Linked DNA regions of Homo sapiens: region 2 is linked to region 1. A link means that fine-mapping ties the variant in region 1 to the plasma level of a protein whose gene starts in the linked region. Region 1 holds a variant in brackets. A gene starts in the other region. All regions are shown on their forward strands.

Region 1 (8,000 bases):
TTGAAGAATGCCTGGACGTAGTGAGTGTTTAGGAGAAACTACTGCTATTAATATATCAAACATTCCTTAGCGTTGGATGCCCAAGAAAGTCACGATCACTGCATTTGTGGAGCTCACAGACCATTGAAACACCAGACATTAAACTGATAGTCACCTGAATGGGGAAATAATTGAGAAAGTACCGAGTGTTCTGAGAATTTAGAAAGGGACCTAACTTAGCTTTGGCATGGGGTGTAAAAGTCAAGGAGGTGACATTTAACTTGGGGTGTGTAGAAGTTAGCCAGATAAGAATGTGGAAGGAGAGTGTTGGAGGCAGGAGAACAGTGTGTCCAAAGGTCCTGAGGAGGGCAGGAACTTGATTTGTTAGAGGAATTAAAAGTCTTGTATTCTTGGAGTTTGGCATAGTGGGGCTAGACGGGTAGGAGGAACCTTATCTTTCAGGGCTTTGGGGGCTGTGTTTAGGATTTTGGGCTTTTTATAAAAAGCAATTGGAAGCTATAGAAGGATTTTAAATATGGAAGTGTCATAGAGAGATTTGGATGTATTTTTGTTTTGTTTTGCTTTTTAAATACCATGTTGATTTCCTCTTTGGAGACTAAACGGATATGGTGTGAGTGTGACTGTAGGGAGAATAACTGTTCTAACAGTTTAAGGGACAGACGATGTTCATACTGGGGGTAGCAATGGAGATGGACAGAAATGCATAGATTTGAGGATAACTTAGAAGAATCATTGAAGAGGGTGAACTAATTTAGTAGATGGGGGAATTAAAGGAGATGCCAGATAGGAAATCTGTGGGGTGGCTGGTGGTGCTGTTTATGAGACGAAGAATGTAGGAGTGTATTTAGAGTGACGTTCAGTTTTGGACATGCAGACCTAATTAGAAGTGTTTGTGAGCCATCCATGAGGAGATACTGAGACTGCAGTTTTATTATGTGGTTCTTGAGCTCAGAGGAGAGGTCTGGGTTGGAGATAAACATTTGAGAGTAGTAGGCATATAGATGATAATTGAAGTCCCCCATCTACTAAATTAGTTTACTCTCCTCAGTCTTTAAAATTGCCTGGAGAGGCCGGGCACAGTGGCTCATGCCTATAATCCCAGCACTTTGGGAGGCCGAGGCGGGCGGATCACCTGAGATCAGGAGTTTGAGACCAACCTGGGCAGCGTAGTCAAACTCTGTCTCTACTAAACATACAAAAAAAATTAGCCGGGTGTGGTGGTGCATGCCCATAGCCCCAGTTAACTTGGGAGGCTGAGGAAGGAGAATCACTTGAACCTGGGAGGTGGAGGTTGCAGTGAGCCAAGATCGTGCCACTGCACTCCAGCCTGGTCAACAGAGGAGACTCCATCTTAAAAAAAAAGGCCAGCGCTGTGGCTCATGCCTGTAATCCCAGCACTTTGGGAGGCTGAGGCGGGTGGATCACCCGAGGTCAGGAGTTCGAGACCATCCAGCCTGATCAACATGGTGAAACCCCGTCTCTACTAAAAATAACAAACATTAGCTGGGCGTGGTGGCACATCCCTGTAATCCCAGTTACTTGGGAGGCTGAGGCAGGAGAATCACTTGAACCTGGGAGGCGGAGGTTGCAGTGAGCCGAGATCGCGCCGTTGTACTCCAGCCTGGGCAACGAGGGCGAAACTCCATCTTAAAAAAAAAAATGTTTGGGGAGATAGTACAGGTTGAGGAGAGGAACGTTTAATATGGGGCCCTGAGGTAGGATGAACCCCCACTTTGGAAAAGCAGTTCAAGGTCGACAGAGGGTCGTGGGCTGACAGAGGCGAATGGGAAAGAGCAGCAGATAGGAAAATCTGGACTGTAGTGTCACGAAGGCAAGGGAACCAAATGTTACAAGATGTGCATGTGTGCATGCGCGCATGCGTGGGCAGGGGGCATCTCTTTCTAATGTAGAGAGAGAAAGAAAGATGGTTTTATTAACAGGGAGGGAGAGTTGTTTCAGTTGTTTGGGGGGTGGTGAATCCAAAGTAGTATGAGTTTGAGGGGTGTGAATGGCTGGTGGGAATGAATACAGTGACTGTAAACAGCTATTAAGAGTTTAGCAGCACCAGGAAAGGAAGGTGGAACTGGGGAGGGGAATGTGCAGTTCCTACATGGTGATGAGGGAGCCAGTGGAGAAGAAGTGGAAGAGGAGGCAGTGGATATTATATGCTGCTTGAGATGGCAGGAGGAGGTGGAATATAGAGTGCAGAGAAGGACTGATTGCCTTTTGATAGGAAGAGGAGAGAAGGGGGAAATGATGGGTGTGTATGCAGATAAATGTATAGATTCGGTGGTGGAACTGATGAAGCAATGCTCATATAATGGTTTTTGTTTTCTCTGAAGAGGTGAAGAGTAGGAGGAGAAAGAGAAGGTAGTCTGAGGTATAGGGAGAGAGTGGGAAAGTTTGAAATAGCCATTATGGAAATGAAGCTGATTGGAAAAACTGTATATTAATAATTGCCAGATAATATTATGTGCTCTAGCACCCAATCCTGATGATTCTTGTCAATATCTCTCAAAAGCCATCAACTCTTTACTGCTCCTGCCTGAATTCAGGTTTTTATTATTTTAACCTGTACTGTACTAGTTTTCTTTCTTTCTTTCTTTCTTTCTTTCTTTCTTTCTTTCTTTCTTTCTTTCTTTCTTTCTTTTTTTTTTTTTTTGAGACAGAGTCTCTGTTGCTCAGGCTGGAGTGCTGTGGTGTGATCTCGGCTCACTGCAACTTCTGCCTTCTGGGTTCAAGCGATTCTTGTACCTCAGCCTCCTGAGTAGCTTGATTACAGGCGCGTGCCACTATGCCCAGCTAATGTTTTGTATTTTTAGTAGAAGACGGGGTTTCTCCATGTTGCTCCTGCTGGTCTGGAACTCCTGAGCTCAGGCAGTCTGCCCACCTTGGTCTCCCAAAGTGCTAGGATTATAGGCGTGAGCCACTGCACCGGCCTATTGTACTAGATTTCTACATGGTCTTCTTCACTTCAGTCTTAACCTACTTGTAGTTCTTTTCCACATTACTATCAGGAAACTTTTACTATGTTTTTTTAAATAAGAAAATATATGTTGTTACTACTAATTTTTTAATCGTACTTCTGGTACACAGAATTTGATAAAATTGTAATCCTTGGATCATGACACTCTCTCACTGTTGGTCTCGTCATAACCTGTTAAAATTTATTTACTCTGTAATTTTTAATAATGTAATAAGCAGTGTGCAGTTCCGTCTACTGCCTTCCATTACCCACAGTAACGAGCCTTCTGATTTCTAAGTCCATTCTTCCCTCGGGTCCTTTTTTATATGGTTTTATTGCATCTCTCTATGTTTCTAAAATGCCCTTTTTATTATAGAAAATTTTAAAGGTACACAAAAACAGAAAAAGTATGAATTCCTGTGTACTTACCATCCAGCTTCAACAATTATCGACACATGACCAATGCATTCAGGCCCTTCTCTGCCTGTGGAATATTTTGAAGCAAACCCCAGACACCATGTATATATTTTAATTGTATTGAAATGTGTAAGGTACTCGTGCTGTATGTACACTTTTGGAGAGTGCTTTCTTAATAACATTGTCACGATCCATTTGTTTTGTTGCAGTCATTGGAGTTTATTAATTGTAGTTTCTATATACTATTCCATTGTATGAATATACTATAGTTTATTCATCTTCTCTTCTGTAGATGGCCCTTTGAGTTGATTCCAGGTCGTGGTTGCTAATGAATAATGCCACCATGAACATTCCTACACATGCCTCCTGTGGTACATGGCAAGAGTTTGTCTTGTGGAATTCCTGGGTTAGAGGGTGTGTGAATGTTCAACTTTAGGATATGATAACAAATATTTTCTAAAATAGGAAGTGTATTGATTTATACTTCAATCAGAAATGTATAAATGTATAAGTGAATGTTTATTTTGATTAATAAGCTTTATTGGCTTCCTATAATCAGTTAAGCAGACATCATTCTTTCCCTTTATCCATATTTTGGAGTACTGACTATGTGCCGGAACTGTGAAGGTGCTAGCAATATAACAATGAATAAGACAGATAAACTTGCTGTTCCCAAACTAAAGTTCAGATTCCTTGTTTCAATACACCAGGCCCTTACTGGCCCAGCACCTTCCTACCTCCTTATCCACAGCCTGCCTTCCTTGCTTTATTTCTTTCCATTCCTTGTAACTCTCCCCAAACATAATGAAATATTTATAATTTCTAAAAATACAGTCTTTTTAGAAATTATACATTTTTTTTAATAATATTTTAAAATAATGTCTTTTTTTTTTTTTCTGGACAGGGTCTCACTCTGTTACCCAGGCTGGAGTGCAGTGGCGTGATCTCAGCTCACTGCAGTCTCTGCCTCCCAGGCTCAAGTGATCCTTTCACCTTGGCCTCCTGAGTAGCTGGGACTACAGGTGTTTGCCACCATACCTGGCTAATTTTCTGTATTTTTTTGTAGAGGCAGTGTTGCCCAGGCTGTTCTCGAACTCCTGAACTCAAGCAGTCTGTCCGTCTTGGCCTCCCAAAGTGTTGGGATTACAGGCATGAGTCATAGCGCCCAGCCTAAATAATAATCCTTTTTTGGTTCTGGCCTTGCAAATGCTGTTATCAATATCTTTAAACCCCCACCTTCACCATTACCTACTGAGTGTCACATCAGTATCACTTGTTTTAGGAAGCCCTTCCTTGATCTCCCTAGTCTTAGTTGATATTCCTTCTCTGTACTCCT[A/G]TGGTACTGGGTGCATATCTATACATCTTATTATGTCATAAGTGATAATTTTCTTGTCTTCTGTAGTAGAAAGTAATCATTAAGAGCAGAGACTGTGTCTTTCCTCTGCATTTCCAGTATCCAGTGTAGTACCTGAAGCATAGTAGGTTTTTGGGAGGTGCTGAATGATTGAATGGCGAGGAAAGGGATAATTGAAGAGATATTTTGAAGGAATAAAAGACCACACTTGATGATAAACTTGCTAGTGAGTGAAGATGGCTGAAGAATCAGATACAGAGCCAGAGTTCCTCCTTAGGAGGTAGGAAGGCCTTAAAGTATATGGTAAAGGCAGAGATACGAGCTGAGGTATTCTGTGGAATACGACACAATAGCAGTCCTGGCTGCTTTTGAATCTTTAACCTTAATGCCTCCAGTCCTCCTTTTCTCAATCTGTTTTTTCGTATCTTTCAGGTTCAGAACTTGGCAGTAAGGAATCAACAGGCCTCAGCTCAAGGACCTCAGATGCAAGGCTCCACTCAGAAGGCCATTCCTCCAGGAGCCTCCCCTGTCTCTAGCCTCTCCCAGGCCTCTAGCCAGGCCCTAGCGGTGGCACAGGCTTCCTCTGGGGCCACAAACCAGTCCCTCAACCTTAGTCAAGCTGGTGGAGGCAGTGGGAATAGCATCCCAGGGTCCATGGGTCCAGGTGGAGGTGGGCAGGCACATGGTGGTTTGGGTCAGTTGCCTTCCTCAGGAATGGGTGGTGGGAGCTGTCCCAGAAAGGGTACAGGAGTGGTGCAGCCCTTGCCTGCAGCCCAAACAGTGACTGTGAGCCAGGGCAGCCAGACAGAGGCAGAAAGTGCAGCAGCCAAGAAGGCAGAAGCAGATGGGAGTGGCCAGCAGAATGTGGGCATGAACCTGACACGGACAGCCACACCTGCGCCCAGCCAGACACTTATTAGCTCAGGTAAATTGTCATTCCTCATGTCATTATTCTCTCAGAATTCATGTGAAATTTTCCTTTTTTTCTTTTTTTGCCTTTTTTTCTTTGCCTTTTTGTTTTTTCCCCGCTTCTGTTGGTCCTTGAATAGTGGAAGGAATGGGAATAATATCAGCCTTGAACATATTAGTTCAGGGTCAGGAGGACAAGTGACAGATACAGATTTTATCTGTTTCTACCAGGCAGTAGTCAGCTTACAAGTTCCCCTGTCCGCTTTCTTAGGCTGTGAGTTCTTCAGTTTTATCACTCTGTCTATTCATTCATCACATCTTACTGAATTGCTTACTGTTTTCTAGGAATTACTGGGGATACATTTTTGAAAAGTAGATTCCCTGTCTTCATGTAACTTAGCATTTACTATAAGGGATGAATTCTCACCTCACTGTTTAATGTGGTTACTTGATCCAGTGTATAGCAGATACAGTACAATGCCTTAGAGCACTTAAGACTAATGGAGAGGCGGGGTGCGGTGGCTCAGTCCTGTAATCCCAGCACTTTGGAAGGCCAAGGCAGGTGGATCACTTGAGGTCAGAGTTTGAGACTAGCCTGGCCATCATGGTGAAACCCCGTCTCTACTAAAAATACAAAAATTAGCCGGGCGTAGTGGTTTACACCTGTAGTCCCAGCTGCTCGGGAGGCTGAAGCAGGAGAGTAGCTTGAACCCGGTTGGCAGAGGTTGCAGTGAGCTGGGATCACACCACTGCACTCCAGCCTGGGTGACAGGGCAAGACTCTGATAGTTTATACTTGCTTTCAGACTGCGGGTAAGATGTAGTTAGATGTGTGTATCTTATTTGGTCATGTTGATTTTTGCCTTTTTTTGTTTCTAGTACCTTAGTTGTTGATGTATTTAGATAATTTACTCACAAAAAAATTAAGAGTTAGTTATTACTATACTTGGTATTTATATACTCTAGCAGTTCTATTTCTAAATTGCTTTATCATCACATGCTTTGATCTCTGGACAATCTGGTACAATATGGAGAAGTAGAGTTTGTCACTCCCAGTTTACAGTGGAGGAAACTGAGTTAGGTCAGAGCTGACAGGTGCTGACTCTCAAGACTCAGATGGTGGTCTAAGCTGATGATTTGTAAAATCCAAGTCATTTGTGGGAAGACGTTGACATCTTTAACTCTGTGGGTATCTCTTCTTTCAGTGAATATTAAGTGCTTCTGCAGTGTCAGGCCCTGGGCTGTGTTTTAGGGATGTGAAAATGAATAAAACATGGATTCAGCCTTTGAGAAACTCCAAGTCTAATGGAGGAGGGGCTAACCATTCTTCTTTGCTGAGTACAGAGTAAAAGAATACAATATTTAAGTATGGCAAAGATAAGAGACACAAGAAATTACTCAGGATCTGAAATGACTGAGCAAGGGAGTTCTTTCTCTGAGATCTTTAAGACTAGTAGTAGTTGGTAATGTCTGATTGAGTGGGAAGAGTATGGACGAAGTGATGTCCAAGTTTCATACTGACTAGATTTCTTTTCACCGCATAATTCCAAAACTAGGTTATACCTTGGAAAAATGAATTTACTTTTAATTTAGAATGATTATTATTCTCTGCTCTTTTTTCTCTCTGTTGTATTCTGGGATTGTTCCTATAGCCACCTACACACAGATCCAGCCCCATTCACTGATTCAGCAACAGCAACAGATCCACCTCCAGCAGAAACAGGTGGTGATCCAGCAGCAGATTGCCATCCACCACCAGCAGCAGTTCCAGCACCGGCAGTCCCAGCTCCTTCACACAGCTACACACCTCCAGTTGGCGCAGCAGCAGCAGCAGCAACAACAGCAACAGCAGCAACAGCAGCAGCCGCAAGCCACCACCCTCACTGCCCCTCAGCCACCACAGGTCCCACCTACTCAGCAGGTCCCACCTTCCCAGTCCCAGCAGCAAGCCCAAACCCTGGTCGTTCAGCCCATGCTTCAGTCTTCACCCTTGTCTCTTCCACCTGATGCAGCCCCTAAGCCACCAATTCCCATCCAATCCAAACCACCTGTAGCACCTATCAAGCCGCCTCAGTTAGGGGCCGCTAAGATGTCAGCTGCCCAGCAACCACCACCCCATATCCCTGTGCAAGTTGTAGGCACTCGACAGCCAGGTACAGCCCAGGCACAGGCTTTGGGGTTGGCACAGCTGGCAGCTGCTGTACCTACTTCCCGGGGGATGCCAGGTACAGTGCAGTCTGGTCAGGCCCATTTGGCCTCCTCGCCACCTTCATCCCAGGCTCCTGGTGCACTGCAGGAGTGCCCTCCCACATTGGCCCCTGGGATGACCCTTGCTCCTGTGCAGGGGACAGCACAT
Region 2 (16,102 bases), not on the chromosome of region 1:
TAATTTAATCATTCTGCAATGTATATTTGTATCATAACATCACATTGTACTCCATAAATAGACACAATTATTATTTAATTATAAATAAATAAAAATAAAACTTAGAGTGTATGACCTAAGAGTGTCATTTTTATACAAAATAATATGTCAAATAAATAAATATATGATGCTAGCTTACAAACAGAAATATTACATAGTTACAGGACTTAGTTATTTAAAGCAGTAGGGTTAAGGTCTTAACATCAGCAAGTGTGCTTTGAAATAAAAACAAAAGTACAAAATGGGAAGTGATAGTCAAGAAACAATATCTGGCCACACTATGTGGGTATTAACGCCTTTTCGCTCCTCAGCCATCCCAAATGTGGCCCTTCCTCAGGAGCTTGTGCTGATTTGCCCTTGGCCTGAGACCTTCACTCTATTATGTATTTTGCTTGCTCCCTGGCTTCCATCAATTCTCTGCTCAAATGGCACCCTTATCCGTGAGGCCTTCCCTAACCCTCCTGTCATATAGATAGACTTCTTACCACCACCACCACCCAGGGCCCTTCCTACTCTCCATGCCTTCTGTTATTTTTATCTACAACACTTATCACCATCTAGCATACTACATATCTGCTTGTTTATTTTCTTATTTCCTGTCTCTCTCACTATAATATAAGCTCCATAACAGGAATTTTGTTTTGATTCCTGCTGTATGGTACCAAGAACAGTATCTGGCAAGAAACAAGTACATAATATTTATTTATTTATTTTTGAGATGGAGTCTCACTCTGTCACCCAGGCTGGAATGCAATGGCACAATCTTGGCTCACTGCAACCTCCGCCTTCCCGGCTCAAGTGATTCTCTTGCCTCAGCCTCCCGAGTAGCTGGGATTACAGGCGCCCACCACCACATCCAGCTAATTTTTGTATTTTTAGTAGAGATGGGGTTTCGCCATGTTGGCTAGGCTGGTCTCGAACTCCTGACCTCAGGTGATCCGCTCACCTTGGCCTTCCAAAGGGCTAGGATTACAGGCGCGAGCCACCACACCCAGCTTAAATATTTACTGAAAACACTGCCTGTAAGAACACAATTTTAAGAGGTAGAAAACAGTACTCCTTTAAAAGCATATCGCTCGAGTGGCAATCCAATCTACCTTTTCCTTGTATTGTTTGCCATAGGTTTTCTTCCAGAGATGCCAGTGGTGATCCAGGGTAGGATCTTTATGCAACTGTGCCACTGCAGAGGAGCACACCAAGAGCACACAAACCAGCCGTTTCATTCTGTGTAAGGAAAGGTAACATAGGAAGTGTTGCTATTAGCTGCATATGTTGTGACCACATGTTTTCATAAGAGAAAATAACAATGCAAAGTCTATCAAAGGGACAGACTATTATAAACAGAATTATACAGGAAAATTCCTGGGATATATAGTCACAGGGAACAGCTGCAGATTTATGTCAGAAATACTACTTCCAATGCTTAGTAGCACTTTAAAAAGTGATTTCCAGGAATTTCCCAATATCTGGTAAACCAAACACATCTAGAGGGTTAGAAAACAGGGACTTTCCAGGATTTGCCAACAAATCTAATCAAAGGAAATCTCTTTCTCTCTCTCTCAAAAAAAAAAAAAAATCATCCTTAAGAGAGACAAACCTCTGAAAAATCAGTTTATCTCCTGAATTTTTGAATACATGGGCTCTTCTTAACTGACCTGTTTAAATATCCACAGTCTTTACAGATAGTTAAAAGACAATTCTCATCTATTGCTTTCACATCTTTAGGTAGGTAATTTTCCTTTTTACGTTTTTTTTTTTTTAATGATCAGACATCTGTTTCAAATGAGGCAATTAACTACTCTTTAAAATGCCACTTCTGTATTTAATTCAAGAGACATCAACAGAAATTCAGCGACTAGCTCCCTCAAACTGGATTCTACTTTCTTTTCCATTTCTTTTTAATTGAAAACATCTGGAATTTTAAACATGTAAGCCTTTAAATTATATTCCAAAGAAAGCCATGTTTCAGTCTCAACTTAGATGCTTAGATGCTCAAGCAGACATTAACTTTTTAAAAATAGAGAAGAGGCAAATTGAACGACACGATTTTTTAGTTTACTTCCTGAAACCAAAGATTTAAAACCTAGCAGGCAGAACAAGTTACAAACACAGAGTGTTTGAAGACCAAATGGGAGAAAAAGAACAAAGAGTACATACGTGATAGAACCAGCAGTTGCTCCCACAGTAAGAGTCCTTGAATTAGTGGGCTCTCTTCTAAGATTTCAAAGCAACAAGGAGATTTCAGTTCAATTGACTTGAAAAGAAATTGGAACTTGTCACATGAGGTACTCAAAATGAGGAAGTGAACTTTCATTTCAGTTTCATTTAAAATCTAGCTAGTACAGTCACCTCTAGTCATTTCCCTATGGTCTTGGGGACAAAGTGGATACAGTAAGCCATCAAGAAGAGCCCTTGTCTGAGCCCAGTGGCTCATGCCTATAATCCCAGCACTTTGGGAGGCTGAGGCGGGAGGATCACTTGAGGCCAGGAGTTCAAGACCAGCCTAGGCAATATAGTGAGACCCTGTCTCTGCAAAAAAATTTTTTTTAATTAGCTGGGCATGGTGGTGCATGCTTGTAGTCCCAGCTGAGGGGGAGGGTGAGGTGGGAGAATTGCTTGAGTCTAGGAGGACAAGGCTGCAGTGAGCCATGATTATGCCACTGTGTTTCAGCCTGGATGACATATCAAGACCCTATCTCAAAAAAAAAATTAAATTGAATTTTAAAAACACCAACTTTTACATGGAAAACATTTAGTTATAAAGAGATTTAGATAAAGCTCCCCAAATCCCAGCTCCTTGTATGATTTCCTAGGAAAACCTGTCTTACTGCTTTTAACACAACTCATTCATGATCTGATATTGTCTGGTTCTCACTCAGCCATTCCTTCGTTCATCAAACTCAAAATGTCTTTATTAATATATACTATATGTATAGTTTAGTAATATGCGTGTGTGTGTGTGTGTGTGTGTGTATGTGTTAGTATATTCATGGAAAAAAGGATACACTCAAATATATCCAATTGAGAATGATTACCTGGGTGGGGTGGGAGCAAGACGAACTATCATCTTTTAAATTTGCATTTTCCTAATTACTAATGAGGTTGAGGATCTTTTCACACATTTATTGACCGTTTGAATTTTCTGTGAATTTCCTGTTCATCTTTTTTGCTCATTTTTCTATTGTATTGTTGCATTTTCTTAGTGATTTGTGGGAGGTGTGTGTGTGTGTGTGTGTTGTGTGTTTTCCGAGACGGAGTCGTGCTTTGTCTCCCATGCTGGAGTGCATTGGTGCGATCTTGGCTCACTGCAACATCCACCTCCCAGGTTCAAGCGATTCTCTGCCTCAGACTCCCAAGTAGCTGGGATTACAGGCACCTGCCAGCATGTCCAGCTAATTTTTGTATTTTTAGTAGAGACAGGGTTTCACCATCTTGGCCAGGCTGGTCTTGAACTCTTCACCTCGTGATCCACCCGCCTCAGCCTCCCAAAGTGCTGGGATTACAGGTGTGAGCCACCGTGCCCGGCCAAGGTGTATGTGTTTTAAAAATATATTCTGGCTTCTAATCTTTGACAGTTATATACCCTTAAAAACATCCTCCCTTAGTCTTCCACTTGTCTTTTATTTTATTTTTTCTTCCTTTGCATAAGCCTATGAAATTCCACTTGTCCTTTAGTCTTGTTTATAGTGAGTTTTTCTATATGAAATTTTTTTATGTTGAGGTAGAACATTTTATTCAGCTTTTCCGTATAATCAATCTATACTGTTTTTGTATAAGAAAATTTTCCTCATCCAAATGTAATAAAGATACACTCATCTTATTTTTATACTTTCAGAGAGTGTTTTATTTATCTTTTCTATGGCTACTGCTTTTAGGTGTTTAATTCACCTGGAATTTAGTTTTGTGTATGGTATGACGTAGGGAGCTTATTTTCTTTGTTTTCCAATTTTGATTCTACCTCTATTGTACACCAAATTCTCATACATAGATAGGTCAGTTTCTGAGCTCATGAAGCTGTTCTTTTTATCTTTTGCTACTTCAGTATCACACAGTTTTAATTAAAACAGCTTTGTAATATGTCTCCACGTATGGTAAGGCAAGTCATCTAGGCCACCCTATCTTTGTTCTTCTTTTTAAACATTGTCTTTGTATTTTGTACTTGTTAACTCTTCTTTATATGAATTTTTTGAATCAGTTTATCAAGTTCCCTGAAAAACTCTGTTGGAGTTTTTTGCTTTTTTCTTTTGGAGACAGGGTTTCATTCTGTCACCCAGGCTGGAGTGCAGTGATGCAATCATGGCTCACTGCAGCCTTGACCTCCTGGGCTCAAGTGATCCTCCCGCCTCAGCCTCTGGAGTGGCTGGGACTACAGGTGCACACCACCATGCCTGGCTGATTTTGTTTTTTGTTTTTTGTAGATAAGGGGTTTCACCATGTTGCCCAGGCTGGCCTCAAACTCCTGGGCTCAAGCAATCTGCCCACCTTGGCCTCCTGAAGTGCTGGGATTACAGGCATGAGCCCCCACATCTGGCTATTAGAGTTTTTATTTGAATATATGCATAAATTTAGGGAGAAGTAACATCATTATAATGTTGATTCATCTCAGCTGTAGTAGACATGTTTGTGTTTGTAGCCATACAGTTTTTTTTAAAAAGATACTGCTTATGGAAAATTTAAAACACATGTAAAAGTAAAAATAGTAGTAAAATGAGCTGCCGTGAAACCATTGTCTTGTTTCAACAATGATCAGTACATGGCCAATCTTATTTTATTTATATTCCCACTCTCACTACCTGAATTATATTAAATAAATTCTAGACATTCTGTCATTTCATACGTAAATGTCCCTGTGTGTGTCTTTAAAAGACAGAGACTATTAAACAAATATAATACCACAATACCATCATCACATCTAAAATAAATGAACAATAATTTTCTTTTTTTTTTTTTTCTGAGACAGAGTCTCACTCACTTGCCCAGGCTGGAGTGCAGTGGTGTGATCCCAGCTCACTGCAATCTCTGCCTGCCGAGTTCAAGCGATTCTCCTGCCTCAGCCTCCCAAGTGGCTGGGATTACAGGCATGTGCCATCACACCCAGCTAATTTTTGTATTTTTAGTAGAGATGGGGTTTCACCACATTGGCCAGGCTTGTCTCGAACTCCTGACCATAGGTAATCTGCCCACCTCAGCCTCCCTAAGTACTGGGTTTACAGGTGTGAGCCACTTTATTGTCATAAGAAATTAAGACAATAATTTCTTAATGTCATCAGACATCCTATCAATGTTCACATTTTCTGGACTGTCTTATACATTTTTTAATAGTTTGTTTGAATTGAGATTTAAATAAGCTCCATATATTGTGAAACCATTGAGTTATGTTTATATCATTATGAATTCATGGATTTAAACATATTTGATGTGTTTCAATCCATTCCAGTTTTATCCTTATTGATACTCATATTGTCTCATTTTTGGTCTGTAGGAATTTATTCAAACTGGCTCTTTGGTGCAGACAGAGTTTGTATATTTGGCATAATATTAGTACTCTTTAAAAGCTTCCTTTCTTTCTAATATGACAGGCTATTGCAGGTTTGTCTTGAACAATTCCTGCCCCAGACCTGGAATCAGCCATTTCTCCAAGGAGCTCTGGTTCCTTTTAGTGGAAACAATGTTTAAATACCATAATCTAGGAACTAGCAGTGTTTGGGATAGCAGATTGACCATTGTTGCTAAGCCTTTTCAGTAGCTAGAGCTAAGAAATATCTTTTTTAAAAAAATTAAATAAATCACAAGCTGACACTGATACTTCAAATTCAAATTCAAGACTATAGGGTTTACTCACCCCATCAATCTTATATCTGCACTTCTTTTCAAACATGCTTAAAAAATCTGGGTTCTCTAAAATATCAACTCAAGTACTTGTTTAATTTATCCTGTAAAATTGCAGAATAACAACAACAAGCCTACGCCAATAAGATTGTTAATGAAAACAAATTAGAGGTTTTAAAGTGGAGGGGGACAGGTTTTTCTCCATTAAGCCAAATGTCGCTAACGATGTAAGTCAATTACTGTGTTTTGAAGTCACCTGGAATAGTTCCCTGTATGGTTATGCTCCACCTCCATACACAGGTTTATTTGTTTCATTTCACTTCTTCCTTTTAGGGCTTGCTTTTTACACTTATGTAATTTCATTTTATAATTATGTAAAACATTTATGTGGATCCAAAGTGAAATCATCACAATGAGGTATATTCAAAGAACTCTAGCCTCTACTTTTGTCTGTTTTACACGATTTCCTTTTTTCCTTAATTGGTAATCATTTAAAAAATTTATGGTTTATCTTCCTATTTTTAGAAATATGCAAATATGCCTATATATTAATATTCTTTCATCTTAAGTGAACACTAACATATTACACATATTTTTCTCTATCTTGTTTTTTTCACTTAGCATTTTTTTTGTTTTAGTCAATCACTTAACATTTTATTAAGAAAAATTATTCAGGCGAAAGACATTAGCAGGTGTCCTTTCAGTGATGTGCTGGGTATTATTTAGTGGACCTTTACAGGAATTGTTTGATTCTTTTTAGAGTTAAGTTGTAAAAAACTGATAACTATGCAAATGATCCCTATACATGGCAATGCAAATAAATTTTGTATTGTAGATTTCACTGAATAGAGAAATAGAGAATGTAGATCTCTGTCAGTCGAATTCTTTTTTTTTTTTTTTTGAGACACGGCCTTACTTCATCGCCCACGCTGGAGTGCAGTGGTGCGATCTCAGCTCACTCTAACCTCCGCCTCCCGGATTTAAGCGATTCTCCTGCCTCAGCCTCCCCAGTAGCTGAGATTACAAATGCACACCACCACACCCAGCTAATTTTTGCATTTTTAGTAGATACAGGGTTTCACCGTGTTGGCCAGGCCGGTCTCGAACTCCTGACCTCAGGTGATCCACCCACCTCGGCTTCCCAGAGTGCTGGGATTACAGGCATGAGCCACCATGCCCGGCCTCAAATTCTTATTTGAACTGACTTTAATCTTACTGATCCCTTATTAATTAATGAGTTAAACTTCGATGCGTTCGTTGTATATTTGCTCTCAGCTTTTTAGAAACTATACTTTAGCAATTAAATTCTGATAACTCCACAGTAGTATATACAGTGTTCATTTATTTTTATGGCCACCTAGCATCTTTTGAACAATATTCCCATGTTTGGAGAATTTCCCACGTTATAAATTTTGCTTCTCCAAGTTGAAGCCAAAGCTCCATTTTCAAGGATCCAGTGCAGTTAAGGCACAGACATGAGACCTAGCCTTTGCCAGTCAGGCACACCTGTATAGAACATCATTTTGCAAGTGGGTAAGTGAGGAACCAGAAGTATGTAAAATCCTCCTTTTGGTGAGAATGGCAGTAGAGATGTCTCCCAGCAGCAGCAGCACCAGCAGGAGCAGGAGCAGCAGCAGATATTCTAATATCTGGTCCCCAGTGTCACCTGTTCAAACTGTAGTGTTTATGTCAAATATTGTGTCTGCTCAGTGGCATCATAGGTTGAGCAGTCCTCTCTGTGGTTTTGGTGATGTTTGTGGTTACACAATAAACAAACCTCACCGACTTTCTGGCCTTTCATAGGTTCTTTGAGTTTCCGGCACTTTTTTTTTTTTTTTTTGAGATGGAGTTTCACTCTTGTTGTCCAGGATGGAGTGCAATGGCATGATCTCGGCTCACTGCAACCTCCGCCTCCCGGGTTCAAGCGATTCTCCTGCCTCAGCCTCCCAAGTAGCTGGGATTACAGGCATGCGCCACCACGCCAGGCTAATTTTGTATTTTTAGTAGAGACAGGGTTTCGCCACGTTGGCCAGGCTGGTTTCAAACCCCTGACCTCAGATGATCCGCCCGCCTTGGCCTCCCAAAGTGCTGAGATTACAGGCGCAAGCCACTGCGCCTGGCTGCTTCCTGCACATTTTAAATAAACTGTAGTACCCGGATAGATGAACCTAGTATTGACATCCACAGCCGTGTTGAGTTTGGAAAAACAAGGGTGGAGTGTCAGAAGCTAGAATGGGGAAGGTGCTTTTCTCAGGCTGCGAATACAGGAAACTCAAGAAGAAAGCTATTGTGGAGCTCTCAATAATTTCAGGTTGCCTTCTCTATCCTTCTTTACACATCTGATCTCATACCTGATGTTTTTTGCTTTTAGCCTTGATACCTCTATATGTATTTCTATCCATAGAAATAGACAGTTCAATTTCCTTAATGAGAAATTAGCATAGGAACAAATTTCTTTCCATCAAGATTAAATGGTAGACAACTGCTTTTACAAGGGACCATGTATTTTTCCAGTCATTGTTTCTCTGTCTGACGAGGTCTATAAATCTACACTCAGTACAGAGCATAAACGTGGTGATTAGGCAACAGCACACCTTCTGTCTCCATTCCTGGGTATTGCCTACATGGAATTGTGTATGAAATTATGTCTCTACCTGTTTCCGGTAATCCTCTACCAAGTGGGAAAAAATTTTGGGGTTAATTGTGTTTTCTAGTGGTACTCTAAACCGGATTCAGGACGGCAGCGGCCATCTAAATGTCTTCCTTTGTTTATTTCTAAATCCATAAATTAATTCCAGATTTACCAAGAAACTAAATTGAGTTGATCCCAAAATGAAACAGGGCTCTCAGGGACATACTCACTTCTTCCCAGCCTGCCTTTGGACTCAGTAAGTAAGCAGAGACTGTGTTTATTTGTCTGATATACATGACCCCTGGTTAATATGTAGGTCGTAGAAGAAACCAAAATTTTACTTATGGAAGGCAGGGAGAATAGAGATGAATTACCTTTTGTGAGAAAAAGAACAAGTGACATATTAACTGCTATTGTATTTTCTGTTGTCAGGACGTGGGCTGAGTAAAAAGCTTAAAAGCTTTTGCATATGTCTTGGTTCTGCCATCTATTGGTTATAAGGCCTGGAACAAGTGATTTAACATGCCCATGGCTCACTTTCCCTATGCATAAGTACGGAAATGCTGACTTAGTGGCAACTAAACAGTGGAAGACACCAGCAATAGAATGTAATTATAATATCGCTCCATGAGATGGTAAGATTTTACAGTTCCAACTAATTATTCCTGAGTCCGTTCCTTTTGCAGAACAAGTTTCTAATAAAGTACTCAGGATTAAGATAGATGGTTATGAGCAAGTGCTACCATTTAGGATATTCATTTGAAATACTAATGCTCCTGGCATTTTTTTTTTTTTTTTTTTTTTTTGAGACAGAGTCTCGCTCTGTCACCCAGGCTGGAGTGCAGTGGCGTGATCTCAGATCACTGCAAGCTCTGCCTCCTGGGTTCATGCCATTCTCCTGCCTCAGCCTCCCAAGTAGCTGGGACTACAGGCGCCTGCCACACGCCTGGCTAATTTTTTGTATTTTTAGTAGAGACAGGGTTTCACCATGTTAGCCAGGATGGTCTCGATCTCCTGACCTCGTGATCCGCCCGCCTCGGCCTCCCAAAGTGCTGGGATTACAGGCGTGAGCCACCGCGCCCAGCCGCGCTCCTGGCATTTTTTATTTTTATTTATTTATTTTTTTTTTTTGAGACAGAGCCTTGCTCTGTCGCCTAGGCTGGAGTGCAGTGGCATGATCTTGGCTCACAGCAAACTCTTCCTCCTGGGTTCAAGTGATTCTCAGCTTCCTGAGTAGCTGGGATTACAGGCATGCCACCATGCCTGGCTAGTTTTTGTATTTTTAGTAGAGACGGGGTTTCGCCATGTTGGCCAGGCTGGTCTCAAACTCCTGACCTCGGGTGATCCACCCACCTCAGCCTCCTAAAGTGCTGGGATTACAGGCATGAGCCACCATGCCTGGCCAAGAAAAACATCTTTAATACAAAAACACAGAAAGGTTGACAATAATAGGAAGCTAAAAGCTAGATCACACAAACGCAAGCAACAGCAAAATGTGGGTATAATTATTCAAATATCAGTCAGAGTAGACTTTAAAGCAAGAAGCATTATGAGGCTAAAGAGGGAACTTTCATAATGATAAAGAAATAAATGATAAAGGGACCCGCCAGGAAGAGATTATAATCTTAAATCTGTATGCTCCTCAAAACATGGCCTCAGAGTCCCATAAAGCAAAGATTGCCAGAGCTAAAAGGAAAAATAGATAAAATCTGCAATCATAATGGGAGGCTTTGAGATACCTCTTTCAATAGCTTGTAGAATAAGCAAATGGAATAAATTAATAGCGATATAGAAGATTCGAATAATGCGATTAATGAACTTGTCCTAATTAAGATATCTAGAGCCTGTCCTCAACAACAGAATCCTTTTTTTTTTTTTTTCTTTTTTTTTCACCCAGGCTGGAGAGCAGAGGCAGGATCACGGCTCACGGCAGCTTTGAACTGCTGGGCCCAAGTGATCCTCCCAGCTCAGCCTCCCATGTAGCTGGGACCCCAGCCCCAAGCCACTGCACTGGCCTCAGAATATTTATTTTGAAGGGCACATAGAATATTTAACAAAATTGACTCTGTATGTGCTGGGCCATAAAATATTCAAGTCATTTAGAGTATGTTCTCTGACCACAGTGAGATTAAGCTAGGCCCAATAACAAAAATGTAATTAGAAAACCTCCCATTTAAGTGATATACTTCTTAATAACCATGGTTATTAAGAAGAAGAAATCATAATGGCAATTAGAAAATATTTTGAACTGAGCAATAATTTTTAAAAATGACATATAAAAATGTGTGAGATCCAGCTAAACCAGTGCTTAGAAAGAAATTTATAACTTTTTAATGCATATATTAGAAAAGAAGAGGCCGGCGCGGTGGCTCACGCCTGTAATCCTAGCACTTTGGGAGGCTGAGGTGAGCGGATCACGAGGTCAGGAGATTAAGACCATCCTGGCTAACATGGTGAAACCCCGTCTCTACTAAAAATACAAAAAAATTAGCCGGGCATGGTAGCGGGTGCCTGTAGTCCCAGCTACTCGGGAGGCTGAGGCAGGAGAATGGCGTGAGCCTGGGAGGCGGAGCTTGCAGTGAGCCGGGATCGCACCACTGCACTCCAGCCTGGGCGCGAGCGAGACTCCGTCTCAAAAAAAAAAAAGAAAAAGAAAAGAAGAATGGCTAAGAATCAGTGGTCTAAGCTGCCACCTCAAGAAGCAAAGGGAAGAACATCAGAGATGTTTTGATGTTCTCTATTTCCCGCCCTTTTTTTTTGTTTGAGATGGAGTCTGGCTCTGTCGCCCAGGCTGGAGTGCAGTGGTGCAATCTTGGCTCACTGCAACCTACATCTCCTGGGTTCAAGTGATTCTTCTGCCTTAGCCTCCCAAGTAGCTGAGACTACAGGCGTTCATCACCACACCCAGTTAATTTTGTATTTTAAGTAGAGATGGGGGGGGGAGTTCTCCATGTTCATCAGGCTGGTCTCGAACTCCTGACCTCAGTTAATCCACTCGCCTTGGCCTCCCAAAGTGCTGGGATTACAGGCGTGAGCCACCGCGCTTGGCCATCTTTTGGACTAAATAAAGACTGTTGAGCTACTCTGGCAGTACTCTTTTTAGAAAAGCACTTGCAGCAAAATTGTGCTTTCAATAAATGATATTAAATTGTGCATTTTATCTTTGAACTCTCAAACTCTGTTATTCTTTTTCAAAATAGGAAGTTTCTAGCAAATATGGAAAAGAGGAAATACCCAAATCGATATGTTTTAATGAATTAAATACAGATATTATGCATCTTCTGTGCCAGGCATTGTACAGGGCACTGAAGATCTTTCCTGCCCATTATTTTATTTGATCCTCCCAACAACATATGAGGTGGTAGTGGTAGCAATAGTATCCCTATTCTATAGTTTAGGAAACTGGGACTTAGAAAGCCTTGTCTAAAACCATTGTGGAAATAAGTGGTGGAACTGAAACTTGAAGTCCACACCAACATCCTTGATGCCTGGGCTAGATATTGTATTTCATACCAGGCTGGAGCAGCGGTGTCTCAGAGCTGGCTTGTATTGACACTCGTTCACGAAAGCTGCTTATACCCACTTCATCCTCACTCCATCTTTAGTAGCATTGCATTGGTAGCTTAAAATAAGCAAACTCTACAAATCAGGTCTCCCTTATTTTATTTTATTTTATTTTATTTTATTTATTTTTTTGAGACAGAGTCTTAGTCTATCACCCAGGCTGAAGTGCAGTGGCGTGATCTTAGCTCACTGCAGCCTCCACCTTCCAAGTTCAAGTGATTCTCCTGCTTCAGCCGCCCACCACCATGCCTGGCTAATTTTTTTTTTTTTTTTTTTTTTTTTTTTTTTGAGACAGAGTCTTACTCTGTCACCCAGGCTGGAGTGCAGTGGCGCGATCTCAGCTCACTGCAACCTCCATCCCCAGGGTTCAATCAATTCTCCTGCCTCAGCCTCCTGAGTAGCTGGGATTACAGGCATGCGACACCACACCTGGCTAATTTTTTGTATTTTTAGTAGAGACAGGGTTTCACCATAATGGCCAGGCTGGTCTCAAACTCCTGACCTCAGGTAATCCGCCACCTCAGCCTACCAAAGTGCTGGGATTACAAGCGTGAGCCACTGCGCCCGGCCCGCGCCCGGCTAATTTTTGTATTTTTTTGTAGAGATGGGCTTTCACCACATTTGCCCGGCTGGTCTCCACCTTCCTGAGTTCAAGTGATCTGCCTGCCTCGGCCTCCCAAAGTGCTAGGTTTACAGATCTGAGCCACTGCGCCCAGCCTATTTATTGTTTTAATCTGGAGAGCCAGTTGTTAAACACTTACTAGCATGCAACTGGGCTGGACTCAGAAGGCACGGCATCTGCTTAAGTTCCTTTTCTTTGAACTTTCTTATTTTGTTCAAGACTTGGCATTGTAAGAAGTCGCAATACTGGCTTGAATTACTATAGTTTCTCAGTTTCAGATTTTACAGAATGGTAAAACTTGAAGAAAATATTAGAGGGCCAACTTAAGGGTTTTTTTTTAGTTTATCAAATAAGGGTATTTAAAATGTATTATCTTCACTCATCATTTCAAAATTGAAGGAGCATTTTAACACCAAAAAAGGATAAAAAGGAAATAATCTCAGAATTTAGAAGTTGATTATATTTAGTTTTGTTAAAAACTCACTCCAGCTGGGTGTGGTGGCTCATACCTGTAATCCCAGCACTTTGGGAGGTCGAGGCAGGCAGATCACTTCAGGCCAGGAGTTCAAGACCAGCCTTGGCAAGATGGCGAAACCTCGTCTCTAATAAAAATACAAAAAATTAGCTGGGCATGGTAGTGTGTGCCTGTAATCCCAGCTACTCGGGAGGCTGAGGTGGGAGGATCACCTGAGCACTGGAGGTCAAGGCTGCAGTGAACCATGATGGCACCACTGCACTCCACTCTGGGTGACAGTGAGAGAGAGACCCTGTCTCAAACCAACAAAACAGAACAAAAAAGTCTCACTCCATTGTCTATATTTTAATCATTTAACTGAAGACTAATGAAAATATTGTCAAGGACAAATATCCCACAAAACAGGGATTTTTGTTTGTTCAGATGTATCTCAAGCACCTAGAACAGTATCTAGCACTCAGTAAATATTCGATGAAAGAATGAAGGATTTGCAGGAATCTGGTGACCAAAGTTTGGCAACCAGAGGTGTAAGCTACCCAACTTGGCATCTTGGCTAGTCAGTCAGCTAACATATTTGAAGTATTTAAGAAGATATGAAAGAAAAAAATGCACAAATCCTATCTTAGGTTGAGAAAATCTAGTTGGGAGTTATAGAAGATGGATGCCTAAACATGGCTTAATCTCAAGGACAACTAATATCAAATTAGTTGCTCTACTTTTAAGAGAACTATGTAGCGCCTTTATTCAAGATATTAGAAATGCCTTTGCTAGAAACGGGAGAGTCTTTTCACGGTTCACTAATTTTCCCTAGGAATCTGCAGAACCAATGAGAATGAAAGCTTTTGAACGTACGATGATGAGGCAGGATTCTGAAGCTTCTATTTAACTGTATTGTCGGGGACATTGAAAACATCAATTGTAACTGTACCAATGAGATGGTGTTGGTAGCAGCGGTGTCCCTCTTCTATAGATGAGGAAACTGGAACTTAGGGAGGCTTAAGCAAGATCATTGTGGAAGGAAGTGGTGGAAGTGTGGGCATAGTGCCACAAACATTAAAAACAGGAAAGGTGAGCACAGAACAACTTTCCTTTAAGTCATTTCTCCTTCTTACATCTACCTGGTAAGTCAGCCCAGCCCTTTGGTAGAGGCACCTGTTACCAATGGCAGCAATAACAGAAGAGGCAGAGGAAGTGAAGATACCTAAGGTGGTGCTAAGGCTAAAGATGAATGACAGTTGCTTCATTTTATTTGTAAAGTGCAAGTGCAGGCCAGTAATAGCCTTCTTTAACCAGTGTATTTTAAGTCCTATACATACAAGCAGTTTCCAACTTGCAAAAGTGTTGTGTTTTAAAAGACATGTAAAGAGGCTGTTTAAAACCAAAAATAGAGGCCGGGAGCAGTGCCTCATGCCTGTAATGCCAGCACTTTGGGAGGCTGAGGTGGGTGGATCACCTGAGGTCAGGAGTTCAAGACCAGTCTGGCCAACATGGTGAAACTAAAAATACAAAAATCAGCCGGGTGTGGTGGTGCATGCCTGTAATCCCAGCTACTCGGGAGGCTGAGGCAAGAGAATCACTTGAACCTGGGAGGCAGAGGTTGCAGTGAGCCGAGATGGCGCCACTGCACTCCGGCCTGGGCGACAGAGATTCTGTCTCAAAAACAAACAAAAAAAAAAACAAAAATATACTCTCCTTAAGAAGTATTATAAAGTGGTTATTTGTTTCTTAAACATGTCAATAAAAATTCATATGATTTAGTCCATAATGTAGCTGAAAAATTATGTGTACACAATGGAAAACAGTACTAGAAATACTGCTGTAAACATAATAGACTTGACCTCAATTAGACTTGTTCCAGCAGCTCCTGAGACTGGGCTTCTATTGAATGAGCCTGAATTTCATTCCCACTGATTCAACAGTGGTAGCCAACTCTCATGTAGCAGACATTCTGACTCTGGCCAGGCACTGCTCTAAGCACTTTACATATATTGACTCATTTCATCACCACAAAAATCCTGCGAGGTAGGTATTATTCTTTTCTCTATTTTACAAAAGCCCTAACCCTAGCCCAAGATCACCTTGCTAGTAAATGGAAGAGGCAGAATCAGGATCCAGGCTGCCTGGCACCAGAGTTCATGCTCTTAACCACTATGTTATGTTGCCTTTCACTAAAATATAATTGGCTTCTTTCATATCAACCTTTAATTCAATAGAGAGGAAAGGGAAAGTAATTCCTGAGGGTGTTGGTATGGCAGGCAATCATGCAATTCTATAGAGTAGATACTCAGAATTTTTTTTTATTGAATGCAAGTGATAAATTATTATTGCTTTGAGTGATGGGGGTCTTACAAATTAATTTTTGTACATTTATGATAGCTAGAGTAAGAAGGTATTCAATAGAAAGACACATGGTATCCAGAAGCAGGTATGAAAACAATAAAATAAAATAAAGATGCAGATGGAATTTTCTACTGAGGCTAGGAAGATGCTAGCCTTTCTCTGGTTACTTAAATATTCCATCATTACACTTCAAACCGCAATGCCATGTAAGGTTTCAATCTGTCCCAGTAAGTCCTTGCTACTTTGTTAAGTCTCTGAGGGCTTCAAGTAGATACTTTTGATGTATTTTCCAGCTTTTCTATTTGCCCTCAGTGGGAAGGCTGGACTGAATTATGTAGTTCACTATGCTGGAAGGGCAAGTCCCTGAGTCCCTGATTCATGATTTTACCATCCTCCACAACCTCTGAAACAGCGCCGTCCAACAGAAATGCAGTGTAAGGCACACAGTAAATCTAAGTTCTCTGGTGGCCATATTTAAAAAGTAAAACACGGGCCAGGCACGGTGGCTCACGCCTGTAATACCAGCACTTTGAGAGGCTGAGGCGGGCGGATCACCTGAGGTCAGGAGTTTGAGACCGGCCTGGACAAAATGGTGAAACCC

Direction of the effects. Positions count from the first base shown, and alleles are read on the strand shown. Strength reflects both the effect of a copy and how common the allele is.
For the plasma level of the protein whose gene starts at base 2,277 in region 2, A is the low allele of the variant in region 1 and G is the other (moderate association).

Evidence for each region. PIP is the posterior inclusion probability: the model's chance that the variant is causal. Protein levels are from antibody-based Olink assays in UK Biobank. Linkage for the fine-mapping came from a reference panel and not from the study's own genotypes, which makes the PIPs less certain.
Region 2: CTSS starts here. The variant in region 1 is fine-mapped to the plasma level of the CTSS protein (UK Biobank, PIP 0.91).

What each region holds. Positions count from the first base shown.
Region 1 is chr12:8,925,267-8,933,266 of GRCh38, forward strand. PHC1 (polyhomeotic homolog 1) reads left to right here. Exons shown (of 15, transcript NM_004426.3): 7 at 5,169-5,661; 8 at 7,297-8,000. Among named protein-coding and RNA genes, the nearest start is that of PHC1, 15 kb to the left of the region's middle. The variant A/G (reference allele first, on the strand shown) is at 4,719.
Region 2 is chr1:150,763,502-150,779,603 of GRCh38, forward strand. CTSS (cathepsin S) reads right to left here and starts at 2,277. Exons shown (of 8, transcript NM_004079.5): 1 at 2,197-2,277; 2 at 1,137-1,263. The coding sequence starts at 1,262. RefSeq lists enhancers at 367-456, 1,168-1,217, 2,148-2,292, 2,151-2,295, 12,754-12,898, cis regulatory regions at 2,220, 2,223, 12,826 and a silencer at 7,488-7,607.